4 linked regions of the Homo sapiens genome follow. The protein of the gene in region 1 interacts with the protein of each later gene in a pairwise test. Each region holds a gene or a part of one and is shown in the gene's direction. Other genes may lie near its edges. The genes, in order: LRRC61, ICAM5, LSAMP and BAG6.

Evidence for each region.
Region 2: the proteins of LRRC61 (region 1) and ICAM5 interact in binary tests that used the Homo sapiens proteins (3 or more experiments, as listed by UniProt).
Region 3: the proteins of LRRC61 (region 1) and LSAMP interact in binary tests that used the Homo sapiens proteins (3 or more experiments, as listed by UniProt).
Region 4: the proteins of LRRC61 (region 1) and BAG6 interact in binary tests that used the Homo sapiens proteins (3 or more experiments, as listed by UniProt).

The regions. Positions count from the first base shown.
Region 1 is NC_000007.14:150,318,550-150,326,994, forward strand, and holds the start of LRRC61 (leucine-rich repeat-containing protein 61), read left to right. Parts: upstream 1-4,805; 5' UTR 4,806-5,011; intron 5,012-7,291; 5' UTR 7,292-7,461; intron 7,462-8,445.
Region 2 is NC_000019.10:10,284,872-10,293,742, forward strand, and holds the start of ICAM5 (intercellular adhesion molecule 5 precursor), read left to right. Parts: upstream 1-5,080; 5' UTR 5,081-5,172; coding exon 5,173-5,254; intron 5,255-6,200; coding exon 6,201-6,470; intron 6,471-6,617; coding exon 6,618-6,938; intron 6,939-7,163; coding exon 7,164-7,451; intron 7,452-7,740; coding exon 7,741-7,995; intron 7,996-8,126; coding exon 8,127-8,375; intron 8,376-8,826; coding exon 8,827-8,871. Other genes in the region: ICAM1 (intercellular adhesion molecule 1 precursor), read left to right, coding at 1-157, 244-416; ICAM4 (intercellular adhesion molecule 4 isoform 3 precursor), read left to right, coding at 2,142-2,535, 2,742-2,967, 3,115-3,313. UniProt on the Homo sapiens protein: ICAM proteins are ligands for the leukocyte adhesion protein LFA-1 (integrin alpha-L/beta-2).
Region 3 is NC_000003.12:115,801,633-115,806,269, reverse strand, and holds the end of LSAMP (limbic system-associated membrane protein isoform 1 preproprotein), read left to right. Parts: 3' UTR 1-3,896; downstream 3,897-4,637.
Region 4 is NC_000006.12:31,642,139-31,650,161, reverse strand, and holds part of BAG6 (large proline-rich protein BAG6), read left to right. Parts: intron 1-534; coding exon 535-652; intron 653-766; coding exon 767-963; intron 964-1,197; coding exon 1,198-1,251; intron 1,252-1,410; coding exon 1,411-1,485; intron 1,486-2,335; coding exon 2,336-2,571; intron 2,572-3,638; coding exon 3,639-3,768; intron 3,769-4,557; coding exon 4,558-4,755; intron 4,756-4,963; coding exon 4,964-5,216; intron 5,217-5,532; coding exon of another isoform or gene 5,533-5,559; coding exon 5,560-5,637; intron 5,638-5,747; coding exon 5,748-5,855; intron 5,856-5,967; coding exon 5,968-6,080; intron 6,081-6,184; coding exon 6,185-6,272; intron 6,273-7,046; coding exon 7,047-7,333; intron 7,334-7,758; coding exon 7,759-8,023. UniProt on the Homo sapiens protein: ATP-independent molecular chaperone preventing the aggregation of misfolded and hydrophobic patches-containing proteins.

The DNA.
Region 1 (8,445 bases):
TCAGGAGTTCAAGACCAGCCTGGCCAATATGGTGAAATCCCATCTGTACTAAAAATACAAAAATTAGCCAGGCGTGGTGGTGCAGAGCTGTAGTTCCAGTTACTCGGGAGGCTGAGGCAGAAGAATCGCTTGAACCCGAAGAGCCGAGATCGCACCACTGCGCTCCAGCCTGGGTGACAGAGTGAGACTCCATCTCAACAACAATGGCAACAACAACAACAAAACAAAGAACATACAGAGTTTTTCAAGATTCTTCTGGGGGCCCGTGAGCCCAAAAATTTGCTTTAGATCAGTGTTTCTCAAAAGCTTACATAAACCATGTGATTCTCATGCATTTCACTCCCTTAGGGGTTTATTTTAAAAGTCATTTTCTGGGCTTCTTCCAGACCCACATAATGGGTGTGGGCCCTGTATTCTGCATTTTCAAACAAGTTTCCCAGGTTCTTCTACATCCCAAAACACTGCTGAAGTAGGAAGATACCTGGGCTGTAGACAAAAATTTGGATTTAATCTTTACCCAGTCTATTACTGAGCAAGTCTTGTCAATTTAGGCAATTTAAGAGTTAAAGTGTACACTCTACTGGGAAAATCCCCGGTTCCAAGTCGAGTGACTCTGAAATTTATTCACTGCACAGCATTTGTAAAATTGCTTCTTCTTTTTTTTTTTTTTTTGAGACAGAGTCTCACTCTGTTACCTAGGCAGGATGGAGTCCAATGGCGTGAGCTTGGCTCACCACAAGCTCCGCCTCTCAGGTTCAAGCGATTCTCCTGCCTTGGCCTCCCGAATAGCTGGGATTACAGGCATGCACCACCATGCCTAGCTAATTTTGTATTTTTAGTAGAAACGGGGTTTCTCCATGTTTCTCAGGCTGGTCTTGAACTCCTGACCTCAGGTGATTTGCCTGCCTCGGCCTCCCAAAGTGCTGGGATTATAGGCATGAGCCACCTCGCCTGGCCCAGAACAAACTTCTTAAGGGTCTGTCTAGCTCTGACATTCCACAAGGCTATGAAATGGTCCAGGAAGAGTTAGGGCAGGATGGCAAATTCAGGTGCCTTTGACTTTGGGAAGATGGAGGCAAAGCACTTTGTCCATCCAATTACTTTGTATTTATTTATTTATTGTTTGTTTGCCCAGACTCCAGTCTTGACAATTACTCTGCATTTTAAAACACTGTTGGGGCTAACCCTACCAACCTCTCCCCTGACCCGAGACAGAGTTAGCAGCTAATGTAGCTACTTCCCACTTTCTGTCACCCCTGCAAACAGGGCAAACAGGGATGCTGTATCTGGAAGCTCTAGGGGCAGGAGCCAGTCCTATTTATCCTTTGTAAAACACCTAGCAAAACGAGATGATTTTAGGTCAACCCTCCTGAAACTTGGCTTGGCTGCAGTGACAAGTTTTGTACCTACAGGAAGATCAGCATTTCCTTCCGTTCTTCCTCTGCCAATCCATCCCTGACTGGTCTTTTGCCCTCTTTTGAGTAAGAAACTCCTTGTTTTAGAGTGTTTCTGGATTAACGCTGGAAAGGGACCAACTCTGAGCCCATAGTGTGGATCCCATGTAACAGTACTCTTACCAGAAAAGGGGTTTCACCCCAGACCCCAAGGGCAGGTTCTTGGATCTTGCACAGGAAAGAATTTAGGGTGAGTCGCAAAGTACAGTAAAGTTTAAATGGTTTATTAGAAACTAATCTATTAGAGTAGGGTATCCTCAGGAAGCAAGAGGAAGAACGCCCTACCTCAAATGTAATGCTTGTTTGTGTAGGATATTAGAGCTAAGAATAGTGTATTTTATTACAAAGGCTTGTGATCGGCTTGTGACAGACTATCTGTATTGTTATTCTCTTGTGCAATTAATTTCAGAAAGAATTTATGAGTGGACTATTATCTTTAGAGCAAAATATAGTTTAAATTAAGAATGCCTTTTTCCAGGCCAGGCGCCATGGCTCAAGCCTGTAATCCCAGCACTTCGGGAGGCTGAGGTGGGTGGATCACTTGAAGTCAGGAGTTTGAGACCAGGCTGGCCAATATGGCAAAACCCCGTCTCTACTAAAAATATAAAAATTAGCCAGGTAAAGTGGCGCACATCTGTAATTCCAGCTACTTCGAAGGCTGAAGCAGGAGAATCACTTGAACCCGGGAGGCAGAGGTTGCAGTGAGCCGAGATGGTGGCATTGCACTCCAGCCTGGGCAACAGAGTGAGACTCCATCTCCAAAACAAAAACAAAAACAAGAATGCCTTTTTCCATTAACTTGTTTCCTCAACAATAAACATCTTGTGATCAAGAGTGCTGACTTCCTGGGAATGCAACCCAGCAGGTCTTGCCTTCCCCAGCCTTTATTTAGGATAGTGTCACTCTAGTTAGGACACCTCTGACAATACAACTCAAATCATTGGTAGCTCATGAAAAGAACTCACTCTTTGACTAAACTTGAGTCAGGCTCCTCTCAGTCCTCGTTTTGACTAGGCCCTGACCCTGGGCTGGTCCTTAACTCACTTAGTTCAGTTTTAGCAAGAATCCTGCTGAGTCAGTTCAGCAAAAATCCCCTACCCTTGGTATCTGATCACCTCGGCTTGTGTTCAGCAAAAATCTCCCTAACCTTTATGTGTCCTCTTAGTAATTTTCCATCTGCTGACTTCCACCCTGTTGCTTAACTATAAATCTCCACCTGTCCTTGTATTTGATGTTAAGCCTGATTTTTTTGCCCCTATTGCATAATCCCTATTGCAGCTGTTCTTGAATAAAGTCTCTCACCTTAACAATTGTTTGAATAATTTTTCTTTTAGTGCCATTTCCTACTGTAACATGCTGTGTGAGTCTCAATTTTCTGATCCATATAATGGAGAAACTAATACTTCCATCTCCGAGGCATGGAGATCAACTGAAATTAAAAATAACTTGCATATGGCTGGGCAGGGTGGCACACACCTGCAATCCCAGCACTTTGGGAGGCCAAGGCGGGCAGATCACTTGAAGTCAGGAGTTTGAGACCACCCTGGCCAATATGGCGAAACCCCGTCTCTACTAAAAATACAAAAATTAGCCAGGTGTGGTGGTTCACGCCTGTAGTCTTAGCTACTTGGGAGACTGAGGCAGGAGAATCGCTTGAACTCAGGAGGTGGAGGTTGCAGTGAGCTGAGATCACACCACTGCACTCCAGCCTGGGCAAGAGAGTGAGACTCCATCTCAAAAAAATAAAAATAAAAATAAAAAACTTGGATAAAGTGTAAAGATAAAAATCACTATTCTTGGGCAGGGGTCCCAGCTGTAGCCCAAGCTGGAGAACTAGACTGGCTTGGCATTAATTTGCTTGGGGCAGGAGAAGGGTCATCTGAAAGATATGGGAAAAGCTGAGGTTGCCCCTGGGAAGACTAGGGAAGCCTGCCCCCGGGCCAGCCCCTTGAATATGTCCAACTGAGGAGGTGGAAAGAAGTTCAAGGTAGCCAGGGAGACAAAAGTTGTTCACTTTGGTGCACATGTGGAACCAACATGGGACAAACAGGCATTTTGTGCTCGTCCAGGGAACATGACTTCTTCGGCTCCCACACAATTTGTAGCTGCAGGAGTGGCAGAGCACCAGAGTGGATGCAGGCCCAGATGTTCTCTGGGTTAGGTGTTAAGGACTTGTGGGAGTCATCAGGCAGCAGGCATTTGCCCCAGTGTCAGAGGTGTTTAAGCCAGAATTACTCCATCTTGAATAAGGGCTGGGTAAAATGAGGCTGCATTCATAGGAGGTTAGGCATTCTAAGTCACAGGATGAGACAGAAGGTTGGCACAAGATACAGGTCATACAGACCTTGCTGATAAAACAGGTTGCAGTAAAGAAGCTGGCTAAACGCCACCAAAACCAATATGGCAATGGGAGGGACCTCTGGTGGTCCTCACTGCTCATTATGCACTAATTATAATGCATTAGCATGCTAAAAGACACTCCCACCAGCAAGCACCATGACAGTTTACAGACGCCATGACACCATCATGAAATACTCTATATGGTCTAAAAAGGGGAGGAAGCCTCAGTTCCGGGAACTGCCCACCCCTTTCTCTGAAACTCATGAATAATTCAACCCTTGTTTAGCATATAATCAAGAAATAACCAAAAAATGGGTAACCAGTAGCCCTGGAGCTGCTCTGCCTATGGAGTAGCCATCCTTTTACTTCTTTGCTTTCTTAATAAACTTGTTTTCACTTTACTCTATGGGCTTGCCCTGAATTCTTTCTTGCATGAGATCCAAGAACCCTCTCTTAGGGCCTGGATCGGGACCCCTTTCTGATAACACCAGGAGACACCCTGGGTGGATTTCCTGAACCGACCGATAGATGAGCCTTCCACGCGGGAGACCTGGATCCTTATCGTCTTTGTGGCCCCTTCCATCTGCACGTGCGGACGAGGTCCGGGTCGCACTCGGGCGGTCAGCCTGGCACGCACAGCGCCGGCGTGCAGGGGGCCTTGGGTGCCACCGAGTCCGGGAGGAAATCTAGGCCGCCATCCGTCCGGAGACTGGCACCTGTGACCACCACCCAACATGTATTGAACAAGGGCTTGGAGGTCCTTTCTCTAAGGCCGCACCGATAAACGATTACCGACTGTTGACCTCACGGCCCCTTCGCTTCCGGCCGCACCGCCTCGCTGCCCACGCCTGCGCACTCAGGCACCGCAGGTAGGAGGAACGTACCAACTGCGAGGCGGGGGGTGCGCGCGAAGACCCCCGCAGGCTGCGCTTCCGGAAGTAACCCCTGGCGCATCCCGGAATCCAGAGCGCCCACTACGGCCTTTGGCCAGGCCCCCTGGGCGCGTTCCGGGAGCTCAGGCCTGCGGCGCTGGGAGAAGCACGCTGGCCAACAAGTTGGGTGGTGGGCACGCGGCCCAGGGGTCAGGGGCCGCCAGGCGGCGGGCGGCGGGGCTGCGGCTCTTACCTGCCGAGGAGGCGCCGGCTCTGCGGTGCGGAGTTGCGCCGGACTTCCCAGCTTGGCCAGTGGCTCCGCAGGCTGCCGGCTCCACCCCTCAGGTAAGCGGGGACTGGGCCGCCGAGGTTCAGGGAAGGGGGCGGCTGTCGGGGCCCGTGCCGGCCCCGGGGGGCCACCTGCTGGGCCAGCGGTGCCCTCGCGCCGAAACACACTGGGAGAGGCCAGAATCTTCCGGAACAGCCAGCCCTTACCCATCTCTCCCTCTGTGCCGAGAACTGCCCTGAAATACTGTGGTATTAATTAACTCGTTTAACACTAACAATCTCATGAGGCGGGTGCTGTTACTATTCCCGTAATGTAGACGAGGAAACCGAGGCGTGTGCTGGAGCAGGATCACGGCCGTGCTCAGAGACGGGCTCTGGATGCCATGCTCTGACTCCATTGTTAGCCCTAAGCTTCCAGAAAGTAGCAGAGTGCTGCCGTGTCGTTTGTAACAGATCTCACTTTGTGTCATTTTTTTTGCACAGTATGAAACCTAATGATGCATGATTATTATTTAAAACATCTTGCTTAGACTTTATAAGTAGTCAAATTTGCGTGTGGGACAAAACCCCAAAACATGCAATGGCTTGCTCTCCTCTTTTCCTTTCACACGTTCATCTCCTCCTATCCCTTTCTCTCACCACCTTTCAATCTTCTCACAGATGTTGTGGAGGAAGATGAGACTTGAGGGCCCAGCAGGTGCTTAAAATCCCCTGCCTGGTGGGGGTGGAGTAGACACTCTGTCCCCCTGCAGTGCTGGAGTTGAGAGCAGAGGGGCTGGAGAGGGACTGGGCGGAGTGAGAAAGGCCTGGCATAATCATGGAATGCCCAGGGTGGGGTTCTACTTCTCTTGCAGGCACAAGAGAAGTAGAAGAGTGGCCGCTTTCCTTCTGGGCACGCACTTGGGAAAAGGCTTGGTGAGAGCAGCGAGAAGAATAGGTCTAATTTCTTGAGCCAGTGTGCGGAGGTGCTTCCCAGCCCAGGCTAAGCCAGATCACTCAGCCAGCCGCTGGCTGCCTTTACAGATGTACGGCTCCCCGTGAGCAATCAACATGCCTGGCTCTCAGGCATAAGCTGCCTCACTTCCCTTCTGCACAGCACTCCAGGACTTGCCTGCTACCAGACCCATCCTACTTTCTCTGTCAGGAAAAATGAGAGTTCTTCCTGGTCTCTTGAGGCCAATCCCTTCCACCGCCTGTGCCCTGGATCCCTTTCTCCAGGAAGCTTCTCTTCCCTGTGTAGTTAGCCTCCCCGCTCTTCCCAGGTCACCTTCTCTCTGTTTAGGGACAGAGCCAAGCCTTTTCCCTCCCATCCCCACCTCCAGCATTCCCGGTTCCTGCTTCTCCCCCACTTCCTGCTGTACCGCCCACTGAAGGGACCTTTGACCCCGCTGACCACTGCTTTTGGAAAGTCTTTTCTTGGTTTCCCTAACTTCACTTTACTTTGGTTTTTCCTTGTCTCTCCCCTCTGCCTCTCAGTCACCTTTGAGATCTGCTCATCCTCTCACCTCCCTGTATTGTCAGCATTACCTGGGCAGCCCCCTCTGGTGTTTTCCTTCAGTTTCTCTAGAAACTTGCCTGAAGATTTGCCCCAAAATAGCCCACATGGACCTGTATGAGGAAAGAGGCTCACTGTGGAGGCGCTCTCCATCATTCCTCCTCTTCCACTTGAGGCTTAGGCATGGGCCACCTCCTGAACAGCTCTCCCCACAGTCTCCTCCATGCATTGTGCCATCACCCCGCCCTGCCGTCACCCCGGCCTGGCCCGCTTTCCCTTTTGCCTCCCAGGGATGTGCCTGCTTCCCATGTGGCCTGGCTAGGGCGCTTTCCTGACTGCTGCCCACATGATCGACTATGGGCAGGCGTGCAGCCCAAAAGGCCGTGCTTCAGCTTAGAAGCCCTTGGAATCTTGTCTTGTTGTGGTTGTAGGCCTCCAATGTGTTGTCAGCTGTGGTGATGTGTGTCACAAGTAACTTCTTTTTTTTGAGACAGGGTCTGGCTCTGTTGCTCAGGCTGGAATGCAGTGGTGCAATCACGGCTCACTGCAATCTCCACTTCCCTGCTCAAGCCATCTTCCTGCCTCAGACTGCCAAGAAGCTGGGACCACAGGCACAGGCCATCACAGCTGGCTGATTTTTTTGTATTTTTTTTGTAAAGACAAGGTTTCGCCATCTTGCCCAAGCTGGTCTCAACCCCCTGAGTTCAAAGCAGTCCACCCACCTTGGCTTCCCAAAGTGCTAGGATTACAGGCGTGAGCCACCACACCTGGCCACAAGTAACTTCTTAGTTATAAAGTACTGAAATTTATCAATGACTTTCTTTTTAAAATTTACGTTTTAGATTCATTTGGATTCAAGGTTGGCTCTCAACAGTGCCAGCTGCACTGTCATCCTAAAGTACTTCTGTGGAAGAGAACATGGTGGTGTCACTGTTGTACCAGTGATGACACAAAATCCCAGATCTACCTGACGGGCCTGCGAGGGTTGAAGATTGTGAAGCAATAGCCTAAGGTAAACAACACCTTGCAAGACGGGTCTAAGCTCTTCAGTGTAATAGACCCTGTTTCTCAGTAGGTCAGCCCGGGGGCCCCCCAGGGATCCCTCCCCGCCTCATAGCACCATACCCCACTTTCCCCCTGGTCTAATGATGAGCCCATTTCTAGGTTGTCGTCTCATCCTGAGCCCCAAGTGCCAGCCAGGCAGCTACTCTCCTCTGTTCATATCTTGAAGGCAGAGTGCTGGCTCATAGTAGACATTTGATGAATTTCTGTTAAATGATTGAGTGAATCAAGAGTATCTGCAGAGTATAGCATTTATGATGAGACAAAGCTAATTGGGAAACAGAACAAGATTGGTGTCCTGGGGTAACTGGGTAGGTCTTAAGATGAAGATTTTGGGGTGTGCTGGGTGCAGTGGCTCACACCTGTAATCCCAATACTTTGGGAGGCTGAGGCAGGGGGATTGCTTGATCCCAGGAGTTCAAGACCAGCTTGGGCAACATGGTGAAATCCCGTCTCTACAGAAAACACAAAAATTAGCTGGGTGTGGTGGTGCACATCTGAAGTCCCAGCTACTTGGGAGGCTGAGTTTGGGAGGATTACTTGAGCCCAGGAGGCAGAGGTTGCAACAAGGTAGATCATGCCACTGTACTCCAGCCTGGGTGACAGAGCAAGACCCAGTCTGAAAAAAAAAAAAAAAAAATACTTTGGAGGGTGACCCCGTTCTGCAGATGGCCTCTGGAGGCCTGGATGTTCACACTCTGGGGTTGCAGTTTCCTCAATCATGAAGTGAGAGTTAAGTCCCCTCCAGTGTGACATCCAAGAGCAGTTGTGGGCCCAGGACAGCAGCCTGTGTTTCCTTTGCAGCTTTACCTAGCCCCTACACAAGCGCCACCTTGCAGTAGGCCTTCAGTTCTTGGATTTATTGGTGGCTGAAAGTTCTTGCGAGATGGACTTGAAGTTGTTGCCACTTAACCCTTCTGAGGTTCTTCTGGCT
Region 2 (8,871 bases), on another chromosome or scaffold:
AACCCATTGCCCGAGCTCAAGTGTCTAAAGGATGGCACTTTCCCACTGCCCATCGGGGAATCAGTGACTGTCACTCGAGATCTTGAGGGCACCTACCTCTGTCGGGCCAGGAGCACTCAAGGGGAGGTCACCCGCAAGGTGACCGTGAATGTGCTCTGTGAGTGAGCCGGCGGGCAGAGCTGGGTGGGGGCAGGGGCCATGGACCTAATGCAATCCTCACCGCCTGTTGTATCCTCCCCACAGCCCCCCGGTATGAGATTGTCATCATCACTGTGGTAGCAGCCGCAGTCATAATGGGCACTGCAGGCCTCAGCACGTACCTCTATAACCGCCAGCGGAAGATCAAGAAATACAGACTACAACAGGCCCAAAAAGGGACCCCCATGAAACCGAACACACAAGCCACGCCTCCCTGAACCTATCCCGGGACAGGGCCTCTTCCTCGGCCTTCCCATATTGGTGGCAGTGGTGCCACACTGAACAGAGTGGAAGACATATGCCATGCAGCTACACCTACCGGCCCTGGGACGCCGGAGGACAGGGCATTGTCCTCAGTCAGATACAACAGCATTTGGGGCCATGGTACCTGCACACCTAAAACACTAGGCCACGCATCTGATCTGTAGTCACATGACTAAGCCAAGAGGAAGGAGCAAGACTCAAGACATGATTGATGGATGTTAAAGTCTAGCCTGATGAGAGGGGAAGTGGTGGGGGAGACATAGCCCCACCATGAGGACATACAACTGGGAAATACTGAAACTTGCTGCCTATTGGGTATGCTGAGGCCCCACAGACTTACAGAAGAAGTGGCCCTCCATAGACATGTGTAGCATCAAAACACAAAGGCCCACACTTCCTGACGGATGCCAGCTTGGGCACTGCTGTCTACTGACCCCAACCCTTGATGATATGTATTTATTCATTTGTTATTTTACCAGCTATTTATTGAGTGTCTTTTATGTAGGCTAAATGAACATAGGTCTCTGGCCTCACGGAGCTCCCAGTCCTAATCACATTCAAGGTCACCAGGTACAGTTGTACAGGTTGTACACTGCAGGAGAGTGCCTGGCAAAAAGATCAAATGGGGCTGGGACTTCTCATTGGCCAACCTGCCTTTCCCCAGAAGGAGTGATTTTTCTATCGGCACAAAAGCACTATATGGACTGGTAATGGTTACAGGTTCAGAGATTACCCAGTGAGGCCTTATTCCTCCCTTCCCCCCAAAACTGACACCTTTGTTAGCCACCTCCCCACCCACATACATTTCTGCCAGTGTTCACAATGACACTCAGCGGTCATGTCTGGACATGAGTGCCCAGGGAATATGCCCAAGCTATGCCTTGTCCTCTTGTCCTGTTTGCATTTCACTGGGAGCTTGCACTATGCAGCTCCAGTTTCCTGCAGTGATCAGGGTCCTGCAAGCAGTGGGGAAGGGGGCCAAGGTATTGGAGGACTCCCTCCCAGCTTTGGAAGCCTCATCCGCGTGTGTGTGTGTGTGTATGTGTAGACAAGCTCTCGCTCTGTCACCCAGGCTGGAGTGCAGTGGTGCAATCATGGTTCACTGCAGTCTTGACCTTTTGGGCTCAAGTGATCCTCCCACCTCAGCCTCCTGAGTAGCTGGGACCATAGGCTCACAACACCACACCTGGCAAATTTGATTTTTTTTTTTTTTCCAGAGACGGGGTCTCGCAACATTGCCCAGACTTCCTTTGTGTTAGTTAATAAAGCTTTCTCAACTGCCTCAGCCTTGTGTGAGTTGAGGGGAGGTGTCACATCCAGCTGGAGTCCTTTCTAAGCAGCCACAGCCTGATCCTCCCACTTCCTCCCCCAAGAAAACATTGTGGGTTGATGGCCATACCCTGAGGTTCTGGTCCAAATCGGACTTTCTATGACCTTCTGGGTCTCTAGTGAAAACTAAAGACTCCTCTCCAGAAAAAAACATTTGGTTTCTAATGAGGCCTGGAATCTTATTCTTGACCTGGGGAGCGGAATCCCTTTTTGCAGTACTCCCGGGCCCTCTGTTGGGGCCTCCCCTTCCTCTCCAGGGTGGAGTCGAGGAGGCGGGGCTGCGGGCCTCCTTATCTCTAGAGCCGGCCCTGGCTCTCTGGCGCGGGGCCCCTTAGTCCGGGCTTTTTGCCATGGGGTCTCTGTTCCCTCTGTCGCTGCTGTTTTTTTTGGCGGCCGCCTACCCGGGAGTTGGGAGCGCGCTGGGACGCCGGACTAAGCGGGCGCAAAGCCCCAAGGGTAGCCCTCTCGCGCCCTCCGGGACCTCAGTGCCCTTCTGGGTGCGCATGAGCCCGGAGTTCGTGGCTGTGCAGCCGGGGAAGTCAGTGCAGCTCAATTGCAGCAACAGCTGTCCCCAGCCGCAGAATTCCAGCCTCCGCACCCCGCTGCGGCAAGGCAAGACGCTCAGAGGGCCGGGTTGGGTGTCTTACCAGCTGCTCGACGTGAGGGCCTGGAGCTCCCTCGCGCACTGCCTCGTGACCTGCGCAGGAAAAACACGCTGGGCCACCTCCAGGATCACCGCCTACAGTGAGGGACAGGGGCTCGGTCCCGGCTGGGGTGAGGGGAGGGGGCTGGAAGAGGTGGGGGAAGGGTAGTTGACAGTCGCTCTATAGGGAGCGCCCGCGGACCTCACTCAGAGGCTCCCCCTTGCCTTAGAACCGCCCCACAGCGTGATTTTGGAGCCTCCGGTCTTAAAGGGCAGGAAATACACTTTGCGCTGCCACGTGACGCAGGTGTTCCCGGTGGGCTACTTGGTGGTGACCCTGAGGCATGGAAGCCGGGTCATCTATTCCGAAAGCCTGGAGCGCTTCACCGGCCTGGATCTGGCCAACGTGACCTTGACCTACGAGTTTGCTGCTGGACCCCGCGACTTCTGGCAGCCCGTGATCTGCCACGCGCGCCTCAATCTCGACGGCCTGGTGGTCCGCAACAGCTCGGCACCCATTACACTGATGCTCGGTGAGGCACCCCTGTAACCCTGGGGACTAGGAGGAAGGGGGCAGAGAGAGTTATGACCCCGAGAGGGCGCACAGACCAAGCGTGAGCTCCACGCGGGTCGACAGACCTCCCTGTGTTCCGTTCCTAATTCTCGCCTTCTGCTCCCAGCTTGGAGCCCCGCGCCCACAGCTTTGGCCTCCGGTTCCATCGCTGCCCTTGTAGGGATCCTCCTCACTGTGGGCGCTGCGTACCTATGCAAGTGCCTAGCTATGAAGTCCCAGGCGTAAAGGGGGATGTTCTATGCCGGCTGAGCGAGAAAAAGAGGAATATGAAACAATCTGGGGAAATGGCCATACATGGTGGCTGACGCCTGTAATCCCAGCACTTTGGGAGGCCGAGGCAGGAGAATCGCTTGAGCCCAGGAGTTCGAGACCAGCCTGGACAACATAGTGAGACCCCGTCTATGCAAAAAATACACAAATTAGCCTGGTGTGGTGGCCCGCACCTGTGGTCCCAGCTACCCGGGAGGCTGAGTTGGGAGGATCCTTTGAGCCCTGAAAGTCGAGGTTGCAGTGAGCCTTGATCGTGCCACTGCACTCCAGCCTGGGGGACAGAGCACGACCCTGTCTCCAAAAATAAAATAAAAATAAAAATAAATATTGGCGGGGGAACCCTCTGGAATCAATAAAGGCTTCCTTAACCAGCCTCTGTCCTGTGACCTAAGGGTCCGCATTACTGCCCTTCTTCGGAGGAACTGGTTTGTTTTTGTTGTTGTTGTTGTTTTTGCGATCACTTTCTCCAAGTTCCTTGTCTCCCTGAGGGCACCTGAGGTTTCCTCACTCAGGGCCCACCTGGGGTCCCGAAGCCCCAGACTCTGTGTATCCCCAGCGGGTGTCACAGAAACCTCTCCTTCTGCTGGCCTTATCGAGTGGGATCAGCGCGGGCCGGGGAGAGCCACGGGCAGGGGCGGGGTGGGGTTCATGGTATGGCTTTCCTGATTGGCGCCGCCGCCACCACGCGGCAGCTCTGATTGGATGTTAAGTTTCCTATCCCAGCCCCACCTTCAGACCCTGTGCTTTCCTGGAGGCCAAACAACTGTGGAGCGAGAACTCATCTCCAAAATAACTTACCACGCTGGAGTGAGACCACGAATGGTGGGGAGGGGAGGGTCCCACGGACATATTGAGGGACGTGGATACGCAGAAGAGGTATCCATGTGGTGGCAGCCGGGAAGGGGTGATCAGATGGTCCACAGGGAATATCACAAACTCGAATTCTGACGATGTTCTGGTAGTCACCCAGCCAGATGAGCGCATGGAGTTGGGGGTGGGGGGTGTCAAAGCTTGGGGCCCGGAAGCGGAGTCAAAAGCATCACCCTCGGTCCCTTGTTCTCGCGTGGATGTCAGGGCCCCCACCCACCGAGCAGAAGGCGGACTCAGGGGCGCTCCAGGGTGGCTCGAGCTCACACACGCTGAGTAGACACGTGCCCGCTGCACCCTGGGTAAATACAGACCCGGAGCCGAGCGGATTCTAATTTAGACGCCCGCGAACGCTGCGCGCACGCACACGTGTCCTCGGCTCGCTGGCACTTTCGTCCCGCCCCCTCCGTCGCGTGCGGGAGCTGACCCGGAGGGGTGCTTAGAGGTATGGCTCCGCGGGGTCAAAAGGAGAAGGATCAGTGAGAGAGGCATCCCCACACCCTCCCCTAGAACTGTCCTTTCCCCATCCAGTGCCTCCCAAATCTCTCTTAGTCCCCAAATGTATCCCCGCCCTAAGGGGCGCTGGTGGGAGGAGCTAAATGTGGGGGCGGGGCTCGGAGTCCAGCTTATTATCATGGCATCTCAGCCAGGGCTGGGGTAGGGGTTTGGGAAGGGCAACCCAGCATCCCCCGATCCCAGAGTCGCGGCCGGGGATGACGCGAGAGAGCGTGGTCGCCCCCAGAAGGCCCTGGGCCATCATGCCGGCCTCCACGTAGACCCCAGGGGTCGCTCACTCCTGCCAGCTCGCCTTCACCAAGGCCAGGAGCTTAGCGCACGCTCGCCTCCCGCCCCCCCGCCGCCTCTGCCGCCGCCCCCTCCTTGGAAACCAAGTTACCAACGTTAAACCAATCCCCAAGCGCAACTCTGCCTCCCCCACACCCCACCCGCCGCGCCGCGCGGAGCCGTCCTCTAGCCCAGCTCCTCGGCTCGCGCTCTCCTCGCCTCCTGTGCTTTCCCCGCCGCGGCGATGCCAGGGCCTTCGCCAGGGCTGCGCCGGGCGCTACTCGGCCTCTGGGCTGCTCTGGGCCTGGGGCTCTTCGGCCTCTCAGGTAAGAGCCCCGCTCTGGTTCGGGGTGGACAGGGCGGGGGCGGAGTCCCTGGACCTGAGAAACGGCCTCCTGTCCCTCCCAGCTCTGCCCTCGCCTCGCTCCCACGCCTCTGCCCCCACCTCGAGCCTGAGTCTTCTCCCCTTCCCCCTCCTCCCCAACACACACCCGAGCCCCAGCTTCCTGACTCCTCGATAGCCCCTACCCGCTTCGAGATCCTAGGTGTTCTTCCGCACCCAACCCTTCGCCCTGGAGACCCAGTGTCTCTCCTGTCCGCTCCCCGGGTACCTCCTTACGCTGTGCTGTGCACCATGGTCCACGGACTGGCATCTTCCCCACTCGCGGTCCGCGAAGACTCCATCTCTCCAACTACCCTGACTCAGAGGCGCTGTTCCCGCTCCACCCAGAGCCCTGGCAACCGGGTCCCTCAGCTGTTCCCGCGGTTCCTTCCATGAGCCCAGCCTTGCGTCCCGGCTCCGTGTTCTTCACCGGGTGTAGGGTCCTTCCTGATCCTTGACCCAGCCTCGTCTCTCCTTTGCCCTTGCCGCAAACGCACTCTCCTCGTATCCCGGCATTCTGCCAGGACCCTGAGAACTGGTTCATCCCCCATCCCCCATCCCGGGTCCCCTTCTCTCAGCCTTGCTGTGTTCATCCAAGAACCCACCTTTCCTCTCCTCTACGCCCTCCCCCCATGCTTTCCCGCCGCTCCATCGGCGCTTTGGAGACCATGGCTCTCTGCTACCACGTCCCAGAGACACCCTCGAGGTTTAGACTCTGGGAGTGCGCCTTTAAACCGGAGGCCTGGGCAGGACGCGGGACGCCTGGGTTCTTTCCCTGGCTGCAGCCTCTCCTCCTCCTCCCCGCCCTCTGAGAACCCTTGACTCGACATAGGGGCGCTAAGATGTCAGGGAGTTGGCTCCCCAGGCTCAGCCCGCGTTTCCCTGGGCAGCGGTCTCGCAGGAGCCCTTCTGGGCGGACCTGCAGCCTCGCGTGGCGTTCGTGGAGCGCGGGGGCTCGCTGTGGCTGAATTGCAGCACCAACTGCCCTCGGCCGGAGCGCGGTGGCCTGGAGACCTCGCTGCGCCGAAACGGGACCCAGAGGGGTTTGCGTTGGTTGGCGCGGCAGCTGGTGGACATTCGCGAGCCGGAGACTCAGCCCGTCTGCTTCTTCCGCTGCGCGCGGCGCACACTACAGGCGCGTGGGCTCATTCGCACTTTCCGTGAGTTCTGGGTGGCCACGCGCGTACTCCACTACTCTCCCTCCCTCCCAGGCCCCGCCCCCTGGGTCCCAGGGTCCTCCCCTTCAGGCCCCACCTTCTGTTCCAAGTCCCGGTGTTCAAAGAGCTGCGGACTCTTCCCCCTTGCAGAGCGACCAGATCGCGTAGAGCTGATGCCGCTGCCTCCCTGGCAGCCGGTGGGCGAGAACTTCACCCTGAGCTGTAGGGTCCCCGGCGCCGGGCCCCGTGCGAGCCTCACGCTGACCCTGCTGCGGGGCGCCCAGGAGCTGATCCGCCGCAGCTTCGCCGGTGAACCACCCCGAGCGCGGGGCGCGGTGCTCACAGCCACGGTACTGGCTCGGAGGGAGGACCATGGAGCCAATTTCTCGTGTCGCGCCGAGCTGGACCTGCGGCCGCACGGACTGGGACTGTTTGAAAACAGCTCGGCCCCCAGAGAGCTCCGAACCTTCTGTGAGTGGGTGTGGGGAGGAGATGGGGACCCAGTGGGGTCGGTCGGTGTTTAGGAGGTTTAGAGGTAGATACATCTGAATGCTGACCCCGACTTCAACCCTCGCCGGCTGAGCTGTTTCCCCCTCCGTGCCTTGAGGATGATAATACGATAAGATAGTGCATGTCAAGTGCTTAGGACATATTGAGCGCTCGGAGTTAGTTCAAACTTGGTTCTTCGACCCCTAGCCCTGTCTCCGGATGCCCCGCGCCTCGCTGCTCCCCGGCTCTTGGAAGTTGGCTCGGAAAGGCCCGTGAGCTGCACTCTGGACGGACTGTTTCCAGCCTCAGAGGCCAGGGTCTACCTCGCACTGGGGGACCAGAATCTGAGTCCTGATGTCACCCTCGAAGGGGACGCATTCGTGGCCACTGCCACAGCCACAGCTAGCGCAGAGCAGGAGGGTGCCAGGCAGCTGGTCTGCAACGTCACCCTGGGGGGCGAAAACCGGGAGACCCGGGAGAACGTGACCATCTACAGTAAGGAAGGAGGCGGGGTCTCCGCGGCTCCGAGGTGGGACCAGAGGAATGCGAAGGCGGGGCGAAGAGTGGGCGGGACCTCAGTACCGGAACAGGCGTGGCCCGAGGGGCGGGGCAGGTGGGGGCGGAGACGTAATCGCTGGGGAGGAGGAGCCTGTACAGCCTGAGAGGCGGGGCGCCGTACCCTAGTTCGTTCTCAGCACCCCGAGGATTCGGGCAGATAAGGGGCGGGCCTTGACCGGAGGGAGGGGTATGGTCAGTATACTACGACCAAATGCTCCGCCCCCAGGCTTCCCGGCACCACTCCTGACCCTGAGCGAACCCAGCGTCTCCGAGGGGCAGATGGTGACAGTAACCTGCGCAGCTGGGGCCCAAGCTCTGGTCACACTGGAGGGAGTTCCAGCCGCGGTCCCGGGGCAGCCCGCCCAGCTTCAGCTAAATGCCACCGAGAACGACGACAGACGCAGCTTCTTCTGCGACGCCACCCTCGATGTGGACGGGGAGACCCTGATCAAGAACAGGAGCGCAGAGCTTCGTGTCCTATGTGAGTTGGTGATAACCCCTCGCCCCCCACCTTCTGGTGACTTCCAAGGACCCGCCTGCTCCCTCACCGTGTCGTGGAGGCGGAGCCATTTCTTACGTCTAAGCCTCTGTAACCCCACGCCCTGCCCGCAGACGCTCCCCGGCTAGACGATTCGGACTGCCCCAGGAGTTGGACGTGGCCCGAGGGCCCAGAGCAGACGCTGCGCTGCGAGGCCCGCGGGAACCCAGAACCCTCAGTGCACTGTGCGCGCTCCGACGGCGGGGCCGTGCTGGCTCTGGGCCTGCTGGGTCCAGTCACTCGGGCGCTCTCAGGCACTTACCGCTGCAAGGCGGCCAATGATCAAGGCGAGGCGGTCAAGGACGTAACGCTAACGGTGGAGTGTGAGTGGGGGTGCGCAGGGTGCATTTCTATCTGGTTCAAGGTCTGGAGGGTGGCCAGCCTCCAGGGAAGAGTAGGAGTAGGGTATGAGGTGTCCCTTTGGGTGAGGTTTTGGGAAAGGGAAGAGGCTGGTTAGTGGGGTTGGAGAAAGATCTTGGAGGATGGAAGGGACCGGGTGGGCGTGCCCCTAGCCTAGGGCGTGGTATTTGGGCGGAGTCGTGGAAAGGCGGGCAGTCCAGAGTGTTTAAGTTTTTAGACGAAAAAGGCGCCACTGGTGGCTCAGGAAGCTCCCAGACAGAGTGCATGCCTCGACTAGCGTGACACCTCCTTGGATCGGCGTCCAAGGGTTATGCAGGGACAACACTTCGTGGAAGCCTTGCCGCGCCAAGGAGGGTCTAGGGACGTCAGATTTGCCCCCAAACCCCAAAGCCAACAATACACTCCCTCCTCCAGACGCACCAGCGCTGGACAGCGTGGGCTGCCCAGAACGCATTACTT
Region 3 (4,637 bases), on another chromosome or scaffold:
AAGAATAATGTTTTGATCTTAAAAGGAAGAAAAGTACTGAATTTGGTTGTTTAGAAAGAAAATCTATGCTCACGTAGAAAGACATAGAGCCCCACTTTTTCCGTTTTGTAATTATTTGGCGAAAAGAAATTTGCTTATAGACTATGTTTAATGGGATTAACCATGTCCTCATTTTTCTTTTCATCCTCATACACTTTTAGCCTGCATTTAGTCTTGGTTACCAATATCATTTTTTAAGAGAAATGTAAGTACAGTGCTATATCTTACCTACATAAACTATTAATATTTTGAAGACAAATGTGAAACACACCACAAAAATGGTGAGATAAGAAACAAAAATGCAGTTTAGGAAGCCTCCTCCTTGCTTAAATGTTTAGAATATTTCTTCTCCAAAGACTGCATTTGCCTCAGTGATGTAAATTTTCCATCATGGTTGGCATAATATCTGTAAACATCTCACTAAATGCAAAATGGAGTTTACATTTATGTGCATACTAGCAGAAAAGAAGTAAACTATTCTCATTTGCATGTAGCTATGCTGTTCAAATGTCGCCAACCAAAATTTAGGAAAGAATTTGTTTTCACCCAGCATGTACATCTCACTTTTCTCTTGGCAAGGAAGCTGGTGTTAACGTTGGGTTTAGGTTTAACATTTACACCAGCGAAAATGTTTATGAATATTATGGAAAACTTATTTTAAACCTTGATTTCTTTTGAGCACATTTACATGCTGCGTGCTGATTAATAAATTAGGCACCAATCATGTGTAAATCAATGTAAATCACTAGTTTATGTACATAATATAAACTATGTAAACTTCATTTTTCATGCAGTGCCCAACTACTGCTAAGGTTTACTATGATTCTTAAGGAAAAAAAAATCAAATAAAAATAAATAAAAACTGAAACGTTTCACAGTTCAGAATCGGAAGAATTACGACTAAAGCTCCAAATATGAGGTTGCCTTAGCCAAAGGAAGCAGACCCACAGGAACAGTTCAAGGTTTATATCCTGCTCAAGTCACCTCTTTGGTCTTTCAGGATCTAAGTGGAGATTGTCCCAACTGTTGCTGTAGTTGTCTCACCCGACCCCAAAGCAAGGGAAATAGAGGGAAAGGTTTTAAGGGCTATATGTCTGCTGTATCCACTCCCAGCTATCTTCTTTTTACTCCTTTCTCACCATCTAAGATGTCTTATTTAAATAGCTCCAAGGAAGTGACCTAAACCTTGATGAGCAAAATATTACTCAGTTTTTATTTTCCATTCAACAAAAGCAGTGGGAAAGCTTGCCATCTGGATTCTAAGAAATTGTGCAATATAAAAAATGTTATATCCTCGAGAAATATCTTGCTGAGTCACCCTAGGAAATAACTACCTTTTATTTATCTGGTAGCCTAATGTTTCCACACATTTATCCTGAATATTGCAAGTGAGGGACTGAATCATTTTTAATTGGGAGTTATCTTTCTCAGGCATGTTCTCTTGGAGTCTTTTTGAAGTGCCTGACACGTGTAACAGGATGACATATATATCATTCCTACAATATGAACAACTGTTACATAAAAAATTATCAAGGAGATGATTTCAGGAAACAAGTGAACTTTCTGCAAAGACTTATAAAAATTTTAGGTCAAATTAACTTCAGGCTTTAAATGCACTAATCTACCTAAGAGAAAAAAAAAGAAAAAAAACAGGAAGGAGTTTTAAGGGCTCATGTGCCTGTTGTATCAACCCCCAAGTGTCTTCTTGGTACTGCTTCCTCATCATCTAAGATAAACTGACAACTTTAAAGTGAGGTAGAAGGTGTATTGAATTGGGAGTCAGGAGAATTGGGTTCTAACCCCAAGTTCAGCCACAAATAAAGCTGTGAGACATTGGCAAGTCATTTAACTTTCCTGAGTCTTGGTTTTCTCATCCTGAAAGTGAGGGATTCGGCTGACGTCTCTAAAATCTCTTTCAACTCTAACCTTTATTCTGAATAAGAATTTAATATTCACTTAGTGCTGTGCCCAGCACTGTTTGTAAACAGCAGCTGTTTGTTATCTCTAGTTTGGTCTCTGTATTCTCATCACTTCTCAGAACTATCATTCTACCGTCTTCATTTCTAAACCCAAAACTGCTAGAATACAGGGACTCTGGACTGGGTCTGTAAATTTTTTCTGATCAAAACTTTATAGCAGTGTAGAGAAGGGACACATTCAAATTACACTAAGGACATTGACATAGCTGGGGTTGTTTCCTTGTTTATATTATAAAACCTAAATGTGGAACTATATTCTAATAATCTTTCATAGGAAGGAAAATAGCCAGACTGGGTATTATGCATGTAACAAATGAGGACATTGTGCATAAGAAAGGAAACATTAGTTTTCTGTCATCCTGGGCCAAGTACCTCATTACAGTAAATGTGTGTCTTTGGAAACTCTTTGCTTGTGCTGATGGCGGTAAGCATGGGGTCCCAGGCAGGTTCAAAGGCTGAACTGTAAGAAATGGGCAAGACAATACATTTTGTTTTGGAAGGAATTTCTCATGGGATAAGTTTCCCAAAGCTTGAATTATAGGCTATGAAATAAAGCAAATAGATGGAGAGAAAACAAGTATTGTTTTCAAAAAGTACAAGTCAATTCTATTTAAAGAAGACAAGCTGAAAATAAAACAAAAATAAACACAATTTAGGAGGTTACAGAGTTGAAGACAGTATGAATTGTTGTGAAGGCCAAAATCAAATGTGAAAGTTAGGTTCTCTGAGAAAAGGGTAAGCAGAAAGGATGATTTCTCAAGCAATTAATAAGGAATTATTTTCTTGTGCCATGTTCTAGATGCATTGAGCACAGATCCTCTTGTCCTAAGCTGTCCTAGAGGCTCAGGTTAGCATCTATCCAAAGTTGTCCTTTGATTTTATTGTCTGAAAGAACAGAAGGCATCAGAGTTTCCAGTCACTGAAGAGTAGGGTTTGTTCATCACTTCCCAGCAATCACATCACTTTGTGTAGGTAAGGATATATGATGTGCTTAGATTACTTATGAAGCTCTCTCTAAGTGGGAGAATGACCTGTCCATGGGACAACTCCCCGTTTTCATGGTCATTTCAGAAGTACCTCTTTTTGGGCAGTGCTCCTGGATCTACTTCTACAGCCACATTCTACTCTGCACAATCCTCCCTATGTAAAGCCAGGCACAGTACAAATATGCTTCTTGCAAGTGAAGAAAACCCATGGAAGTCCTAGCTTCATGGCACGCTGCAGCAATCCCAAGCTACCAGGAGCCTCTTTTGAACCCACTTCCCTAAGTCTTTGCTCTTCACCAGAGAATGGAAATTGTTCATCCTGGTGAACTGTGGCCAAGTTCTGCTCCCTAAGTATTTACTTGGAGTAGGGAGGTTAAAGGGAAGAAATTCAGGGGGAGAGAAGCAAAAGAGAACACTTCCAACTCCCTCCCCCATCTCCCAATGCTCCCCACCTTCCTTATCACTGCTCTACTGAAGGGTGTATAAATCCTGCTCTTGGTTAGAATTCTCCTTATTAACAGTGTTATATACATATAAATATATATATAAATATATTCCTTTTTTCAGCCCTGTAGACATGAACTGATCTTCCCTTGAAGATACAAACACATGGCCATTTTTTGTTTGGGATTTTTTGTTTTTCAAGGTTTTTCATTTTTGTTTATTAGGTGGATTTTTTTCCCTGGGTACTAGCTCTGTGAAGGAGATAAAAAGCGCAATGTGTGTTAAAAAAAAAAAATTAAAATTAAAATGAAAAAAAGCTTTTTTTCTTTTCTTTTTAAATGTATTTAAATTCTGTTTCTCTCTTCTGTTACTTTACACGTATGAATGCTCTGCTCTTCTGTGATCTTAAAACAAAATGAAATAAACGTGAAAAGGAGATGTGTCTTCATTGACCTGTCAGTGATCTTGTGGTTGACTGCACTGCTTCTTGGAGGTTTTCATGAATAAAAGAGAAAATGAAGCCAATGATATGAATATCATGTAAGGGAAGGGCAGAAATAATACTGAAAAATCACTTGAAGCTCTTCTAACAATGCCTCGTCTGTCACAGAAAGGAACGTGGTATTTACAAGAATTTTCTCCACCTAAGCAAAGAGATTCTGTAAACGTGTTTTTTTTTTCTTTTTCTTTTTTTCCCTTAAGGGACTGAAAGAAATAAGTATAAATTACCACTGAAATGCTATAAATAATTAAGACACTTATGATTGTTAGACTTCAGTGCAACCTTGGGTTATGATACCAAAAACATTAGAAAATATGCTCTTTCTTCAAAGTCTCCATAGTAGTGGTTATCTTTAAGGGTTAGTTTTAATGAGATGCTACCTCATAGCAGTAGAAGGAACTAAGGTACCTTCTACAGCCACCTGTTATTTCTACTTACAAAAATGCAGTTTGTTTTCTATTACTGCTGAGAGCTATGATCTTCACGAAATGTTTCCTGAATCTCTATAGAAGCCCTATTGCATTACACAGGACACATAGAAAGAAAATGAGAAATAAGCAATCTATAGTCCAAAGATCATACATCAGGAGTGACTGGGAGCGTCTGAAGTGCTACTCTTAGGAGTCAAATTGACTTTGAAACACCTCCATGAGAATTAATCCCAAGTTAGGCGGCTGGGGGATGGAA
Region 4 (8,023 bases), on another chromosome or scaffold:
CCGTGTTATTTTTCCTGGATCTATAACCTGAGCTTCATTAAGTTTATTTATTTAATTTTTTGAGATGGAGTCCCTCTCTGTCACCCAGGCTAGAGTGTAGTGATGCGATCTCGGCTCACTGCAACCTCCGCCTCCCGAATTCAAGTGATTCTCTTGCTTCAGCCTCCCTAGTAGCTGGGATTACAGGCGACCACCATGCCTGGCTTATTTTTTTGTATTTTTGGTAAAAAAGGGGTTTTACCATGTTGGCCAGGCTGGTCTCGAACTCCTGACCTAATGTGATCTGCCTGCCTTGGCCTCCCAAAGTGCTGGGATTACAGGTGTGAGCCACCGCGCCAAGCCAAATTTATTGTCTGTATTTTGACAGCTGTTACTTTAGTTTAAGGGTTTGCACAGTAATGATCTCACGGTCAAGACAAACGGGTAGTGATTCTGTGGTGGTTTTTACCCCTCACCTCCACAACTCGGTTGTCTGTCTTTGTTCTTCCTCTTTCCTCCATTCTTTCCATTCCTGTGCATGCCTCTTCTTTTCAGATGAATGTAAAAGAGTTTAAGGAGCACATTGCTGCCTCTGTCAGCATCCCATCTGAAAAACAACGGCTCATTTACCAGGGACGAGTTCTGCAAGATGATAAGAAGCTTCAGGAATACAGTAAGGGGGCTGGGGAGGCAGTTCAGAGGTTGGGGCTACTGTCTGGAGGGATGAACTGAGGCCATGGGTTTACCTGTTCATACTATGTTTTGGTGTGTGTCTATTTTTCTGCAGATGTTGGGGGAAAGGTTATCCACCTGGTGGAACGGGCTCCTCCTCAGACTCACCTCCCTTCTGGGGCATCTTCTGGGACGGGGTCTGCCTCAGCCACTCATGGTGGGGGATCCCCCCCTGGTACTCGGGGGCCTGGGGCCTCTGTTCATGACCGGAATGCCAACAGCTATGTCATGGTTGGAACCTTCAATCTTCCTGTAAGCTTATGTTCCACAGGGGAGGGCTTTTGTGGGTAGCTTTGGTTGTGGTAGCACCAGGGAATTAATAAGATAGATGCTTCCATCTTTAGATTGGGTTCAGGGGGCCCTGTGGTGTGCTATTGGTCTCAGTCTTTAAGGAGAAAAGGAGGTAGGGCTCCAGGGAATGAATTGGAGGTGTGGAGGCCTTAGTGTTGGCTTCTCCCAGAACAACTTCCCTTACCCTTTCCCCAGAGTGACGGCTCTGCTGTGGATGTTCACATCAACATGGAACAGGCCCCGATTCAGGTATTGAGGGGCCTCCGAGGGTCAGGGAAGGGGATCTGGGAGAAGGAGGCTGGGAGGTGGGGTGGACCTGGCTGAGAGATGGCTGGGACCTGATTTAGTAGGTGGTAGAACTCATGGCTTCATCTGTAACCTACCCTGATAAACCTTCTCTCATTGTAGAGTGAGCCCCGGGTACGGCTGGTGATGGCTCAGCACATGATCAGGGATATACAGACCTTACTATCCCGGATGGAGGTAAGTGGGCAAGGCTGGCTAGGGTCTCTCTCCACCCTCCCTCTCCCTTTTCTCTCAGCCTGGGAGTTAGGGCTTCACTGGCCACATCCACAGGGTTTGGCCTTCATAATCTAGTCTTCTCTGCAGTATTCATTCTTTTGGGCAGAAAAAGTATCTTTGTGAGGCTCTCTCATTTCTGCCAATCCTCTTGGTGCCTGGTATCTGGGGAGTTTGTTTCAGACTTAGTCTCATGGCATCTCTTTTCAATTAAAGGATTCTACTCTCTTAACTTGTGGAGGCTGGGAAACCAACTTGTGGAGGAAAGGAAACCACAATCTCTACTCTTTGTTAGAAATTTATTTACAAATATTACAGATGCTGTGGCCGGGTGTGGTGGCTCCTGCCTGTAATCCCAGCACTTTGGGTCGCCATGGCAGGGGGATAACGTGTGGTCAGGAGTTCCAATCCAGCCTGGCCAACATGGTGAAACCCTGTCTCTACTACAAGTACAAAAATTAGTTGGGTGTGGTGGCACGCGCCTGTAGGCCTGGCTACTTAGAAGGCTGAGGCAAGAGAATTTCTTGAACCTGGGAGGCGGAGGTTACAGTGAGCTGAGATCATGCCACTGCACTCCAGCCTGGGCAACAGAGCGAGACTCTGTCTCAAAAAAAAAAAAAAAAATTACAGATGCTTATTATGCATCTAATTTGTGTCAGTCTTATGCTAGTTGCTAGCGAGTCGGAGATAAAATTGCAGAGCCATGCCTTCAGGGAGTCTAGTTAGGATACTTTCTCTGTTCAGTCTCCTGTAGAGTAATCCTCTGCAGCAGTCTTACCCTGCCTTTGGTATCCTGACTCTCCCCTACCTTCAGTGTCGAGGAGGGCCCCAACCGCAGCACAGTCAGCCGCCCCCGCAGCCACCGGCTGTGACCCCGGAGCCAGTAGCCTTGAGCTCTCAAACATCAGAACCAGTTGAAAGTGAAGCACCTCCCCGGGAGCCCATGGAGGCAGAAGAAGTGGAGGAGCGTGCCCCAGCCCAGAACCCGGAGCTCACTCCTGGCCCAGCCCCAGCGGGCCCAACACCTGCCCCGGAAACAAATGCACCCAAGTGAGAGATGGAGGGAATCTTTAGTGGGTGGGGAATCCTAAGTGAAGTATGGGGAGAAGGAAATGAACCATGGCAAGGGAGGGAAAGGATTACTTGGAGGTCTTAGTTGAAGGGTTAGCATTGAGGGGCGAGGAGGGGCTCTCTCGGTATAGGTAAATGACGCTAGGACAGGCAGCTGAGAAGAACTGCTGCTCTCCCTACGGCAAGGAAATCCAAATGGTATCTCCTGAGCCTGATCGGAATTCTCCTCTGAGTTCACGAAGGCCTGCTCTCTTTCTTAGAATTAGTCTTTCACCATTGTAGGTGCAGGATTGTGGTGGGGAGGGTGGGAGCAGTTCATTTTCTTCTCCCTATCCTCTCATGGGTGGGAGTAAAGAATAGAAGCTTTGGCTGGGTGCAGTGGCTCATGCCTGTAATCTCAGCACTTTGGGAGGCAGAGGCGGGCAGATCACCTGAGGTCAGGAGTTCGAGACCAGCCTGGCCAACATGGTGAAACCCTGTCTCTACTAAAAAATACAGGCCGGGCACAGTGGCTCACGCCTGTAATCCCAGCACTTTGGGAGGCCGAGGCGGGTGGATCATGAGGTCAAGAGATCGAGACTATCCTGGCTAACATGATGAAACCCCGTCTCTACTAAAAATACAAAAAATTAGCTGGGCATGGTGGCGGGCACCTGTAGTCCCAGCTACTCGGGAGGCTGAGTCAGGAGAATGGTGTGAACCCAGGAGACGGAGCTTGCAGTGAGCTGAGGTCGCACCACTGCACTCCAGCCTGGGTGATAGAGCGAGACTCTGTCTCAAAAAAAAAAAAAAAAAAAAAAAAACAAAAATTAGCCGGGTGTGGTGGCAGGCAACTTAATCCCAGCTACTTGGGAGGCAGAGGCAGGAGAATCGTTTGAACCTGGGAGGCGGAGGTTGAAGAGAATAGAAGCTCTGCTGGTCCAGAGAAGGATTGGGCCAGGGCTCTGGGAGACCAGGGAGAAAGAGGGCACATGTGGTCCCTGTTGACTGTGAGGGTGGGAATCTGAGGAAGGCTTTGGCTCATTGCCCCTTGGGTTTGTCCACAGCCATCCTTCCCCTGCGGAGTATGTCGAGGTGCTCCAGGAGCTACAGCGGCTGGAGAGTCGCCTCCAGCCCTTCTTGCAGCGCTACTACGAGGTTCTGGGTGCTGCTGCCACCACGGACTACAATAACAATGTGAGCCCTTTGATGGCCCTGCCCTTTCTCCTCAGCCCCAGTACTCCCAAAACAGAACAGGCTGAAATGCAGATAACTCTTTCCCTCCCTGGAAAAACATTGCAACAGGGCCAGGTGCAGTGGCTCACGCCTGTAATCCCAGCACTTTGGGAGGCCAAGGTGGGCGGATCATCTGAGATTGGGAGTTTGAGACCAGCCTGGCCAACATGGTGCAACCCCATCTCTACTGAAAATATAAACATTAGCTGGATGTAGTGGTGCACACCTGTAATCCCAGCTACTCAGGAGGCTGAGGCAGGAGAATCGCTAGAACTCGGGAGGAGGGGGTTGCAGTGAGCCGAGATTGCACTACTGCACTCTAGCCTGGGTGACAGAGCGAGACTGTCTCAAAAAACAAAACAAAACAAAAAAACACACATTGCAACAAAACAATTTCTCTCTAAACCTGTAAGTGATTTTGTCCTCCCTTACAGAGAAGGTGATAATCTTTGCTGTAAGCACTGTCCTCGTATCGTACCCCTTGTGCCCCTGAATGAATTTAGAAAATGTAAAGTACAGGAGATCAGTATATGATGACTTACTGATTCATAGTAGTGTTTTAATAGGATGTTCCTTATGTGAATAAGATATAATTTATTTGCAAAGATTTGGTCTACATGTAAACTTCCAAGGATATAACTGAAAGTTTTGGAGGACATGGTATTCTCAGTAGGCATTATTGCTTTTATTAGTGAGATGGACTCCAGCTTGATATTTTCTGCCTTTTTGTGTTTGGCTGGTTGTGCGCAGCACGAGGGCCGGGAGGAGGATCAGCGGTTGATCAACTTGGTAGGGGAGAGCCTGCGACTGCTGGGCAACACCTTTGTTGCACTGTCTGACCTGCGCTGCAATCTGGCCTGCACGCCCCCACGACACCTGCATGTGGTCCGGCCTATGTCTCACTACACCACCCCCATGGTGCTCCAGCAGGCAGCCATTCCCATACAGGTGGGTTAGGGGGAGTCTGGCCTGAGGGAGAGTGAGGGGTGTTGATAGAGTGACCCAGGGTAGCTACTGGGCCTGAAGGAGGTTAGGAAAGGAGGAGACTGGAAACATGGTGATGAAGGCTGGAGATACTTTAGAGGTTTATCATGAGGTTTTCTTGGTTAGGCTCTTGTATTTTTCTCACATCTGCCTGTCCATCTGTCTTTTTCAGATCAATGTGGGAACCACTGTGACCATGACAGGAAATGGGACTCGGCCCCCCCCAACTCCCAATGCAGAGGCACCTCCCCCTGGTCCTGGGCAGGCCTCATCCGTGGCTCCGTCTTCTACCAATGTCGAGTCCTCAGCTGAGGGGGCTCCCCCGCCAGGTCCAGCTCCCCCGCCAGCCACCAGCCACCCGAGGGTCATCCGGATTTCCCACCAGAGTGTGGAACCCGTGGTCATGATGCACATGAACATTCAAGGTGAGAATAGTTGCTGGCGAGAAGAGCAGGATCAGCATGATGAGGGAGGTTCATGCTGAGGTGTGAGGGAACAGGGTGGGGAAGGGAGAGGCACATGCTGGTGGTGGTAGCCTGGGGACCAGAGCAGAAGCTTAAGTAGACAGATGTGGGGGGTGTGGGGGTTGGTTTGTCTTTGGAGGTGTGTTTGTGTGGTGAAGGGAGTACCTCTCCCTGTTTAGATGGAGGGAAAGGCAGGCTTTCTGATTGGGGGATTATGGGCCTGAAGTATGCCTGATCTCAGAAGGATATAGTTAGGCCTTGGCCCTACCTACCTCAGGGCCACTGTCTCTGTCTCCCTGCCCAGATTCTGGCACACAGCCTGGTGGTGTTCCGAGTGCTCCCACTGGCCCCCTGGGACCCCCTGGTCATGGCCAAACCCTGGGTAAGAGTGAGGGCATCAGGGCAGGCTGAGCTCTGGGTAGAGAAAGGGAAGGGCTGAGTGGGTGGGTTGAAGGGGTCCAGGTTCAAGGTTACATCAGACCCGCCCCCCAGGCTCCACCCTCATCCAGCTGCCCTCCCTGCCCCCTGAGTTCATGCACGCCGTCGCCCACCAGATCACTCATCAGGCCATGGTGGCAGCTGTTGCCTCCGCGGCCGCAGGTAATGACCTGGAAGGGGAGGCTTGGGAGGTAGGGCACAGTCCATGGTGGCAGCTGGCTGGCAAGGGCCTGGCCCTCAGCCCTCTTCGGTCTGTCTCTTCTGCCACCCACAGGACAGCAGGTGCCAGGCTTCCCAACAGCTCCAACCCGGGTGGTGATTGCCCGGCCCACTCCTCCACAGGCTCGGCCTTCCCATCCTGGAGGGCCCCCAGTCTCTGGGACACTGGTGAGCAAGGGTCGGGGAGTTCTAGTGCGTAACAGTCTAGGGAGAGACTCCTGTGGTGGTGCATGGAAGGGCAGGTCTGAAATTCTCCCTTGCTCTCTATCCAGCAGGGCGCCGGTCTGGGTACCAATGCCTCGTTGGCCCAGATGGTGAGCGGCCTTGTGGGGCAGCTTCTTATGCAGCCAGTCCTTGTGGGTGAGTTTTCATTCTTCCCCACTCAGAGTTTAAACTCCTTTCCTAGTCTGCTCACTGGCACTTTCCAGTTCTTTCCATATTTTCTTGGTTCCTGCTTTCCTGGAATGGGGCTGCTGTAGTGTCTTGTGTCTTCAGGTTTCAGCTTTTTTTTTTTTTTTTTTTTTTTTTGAGATGGAGTCTCACTCTGTTGCTAGGCTGGAGTGCAGTGTACAATCTTGGCTCACTGCAACCTCTGCCTCCCGGGTTCAAGTGATTCTCCTGCCTCAGCCTCCTGAGTAGCTGGGACTACAGGTGCACGCCACCACGCCCAGCTAATTTTTTATGTTTTTAGTAGAGAAGGGGGTTTCACCATGTTGGCCAGGATGGTCTCGAACTCTTGACCTTGTGATCCACCCACCTTGGCCTCCCAAAGTGCTGGGATTACAGGCTTGAGCCATCGTGCCCGGCCAGCTTTTTTCTTTTTTTTTTAAGTTACAGAGTCTTGCTCTGTCACCCAGACTGGAGTGCAATGGTGCAATCCAGTGAGTTAAAGCTCACTGTAACCTTGAACTCCTGGGCTCAAACAGTTCTCCCACCTCAGCCTCCTGAGTAGCTAGCAGTACTAGCTCCTGGCTAGTAATTGTCTTTTTTTTTTTCTGGTAGAGATGGGGTCTTGCTATGTGGCCTAGACTCCTGGGCTCAAGCAGTTCTCATGCCTTGGCCTCCCAAAGTTGCTAGGATTACAGCCAAGAGCCACCATGCTCAGCCCAGCTTTCTTTTTTTGGTTTCTTACAGCTCAGGGGACCCCAGGTATGGCTCCACCGCCAGCCCCTGCCACTGCTTCTGCCAGTGCTGGCACCACCAACACAGCTACCACAGCTGGCCCCGCTCCTGGGGGGCCTGCCCAGCCTCCACCCACCCCTCAACCCTCCATGGCTGATCTTCAGTTCTCTCAGCTTCTGGGGAACCTGCTAGGGCCTGCAGGGCCAGGGGCTGGAGGGTCTGGTGTGGCTTCTCCCACCATCACTGTGGCGATGCCTGGTGTCCCTGCCTTTCTCCAAGGCATGACTGACTTCTTGCAGGTGAGTGGCTGGCTTGCCATTCACCTCATCTTCCTGTCCCCCGGCCCAGCCAGGCAGTGGTACCTTCTTGCCATTATATAACCACTGGGTAAGAGCCCCTAGTGACATGTTAGGGGAAGGGGCCCTGGGAATTCATTGACTCTGAACCTTTCATTTTAAAGATGAAGAAAATGAGGTTTAGAAAAAGAAAGTATAGTAATTAGTGTCACTGCTTTCTGACAGCCTGTTCAGAGGAAGAGGTAGGTAAGTTGTGCTGCCTGACTCTGTTAAATACCTACCATACTTCTGCTTTAAGCAGTGAAGATCAGAATGTAACTCCCCATCTTCCCAGACCCGTTGGTTTGTGCCCTCTTGATGCCGTATTATTTCCGTGTGTCTTCATTCTCACCTCACTTTCTGTTCTTTGTTCTTTCTTTATTTGCCAGGCAACACAGACAGCCCCTCCACCACCCCCACCTCCTCCACCCCCACCACCTGCCCCAGAGCAGCAGACCATGCCCCCACCAGGCTCCCCTTCTGGTGGCGCAGGGAGTCCTGGAGGCCTGGGTCTTGAGAGCCTGTCACCGGAGTTTTTTACCTCAGTGGTGCAGGGTGTGCTCAGCTCCCTGCTGGGCTCCCTGGGGGCTCGGGCTGGCAGCAGTGAAAGTATTGCTGCCTTCATACAACGCCTCAGTGGATCCAGCAACATCT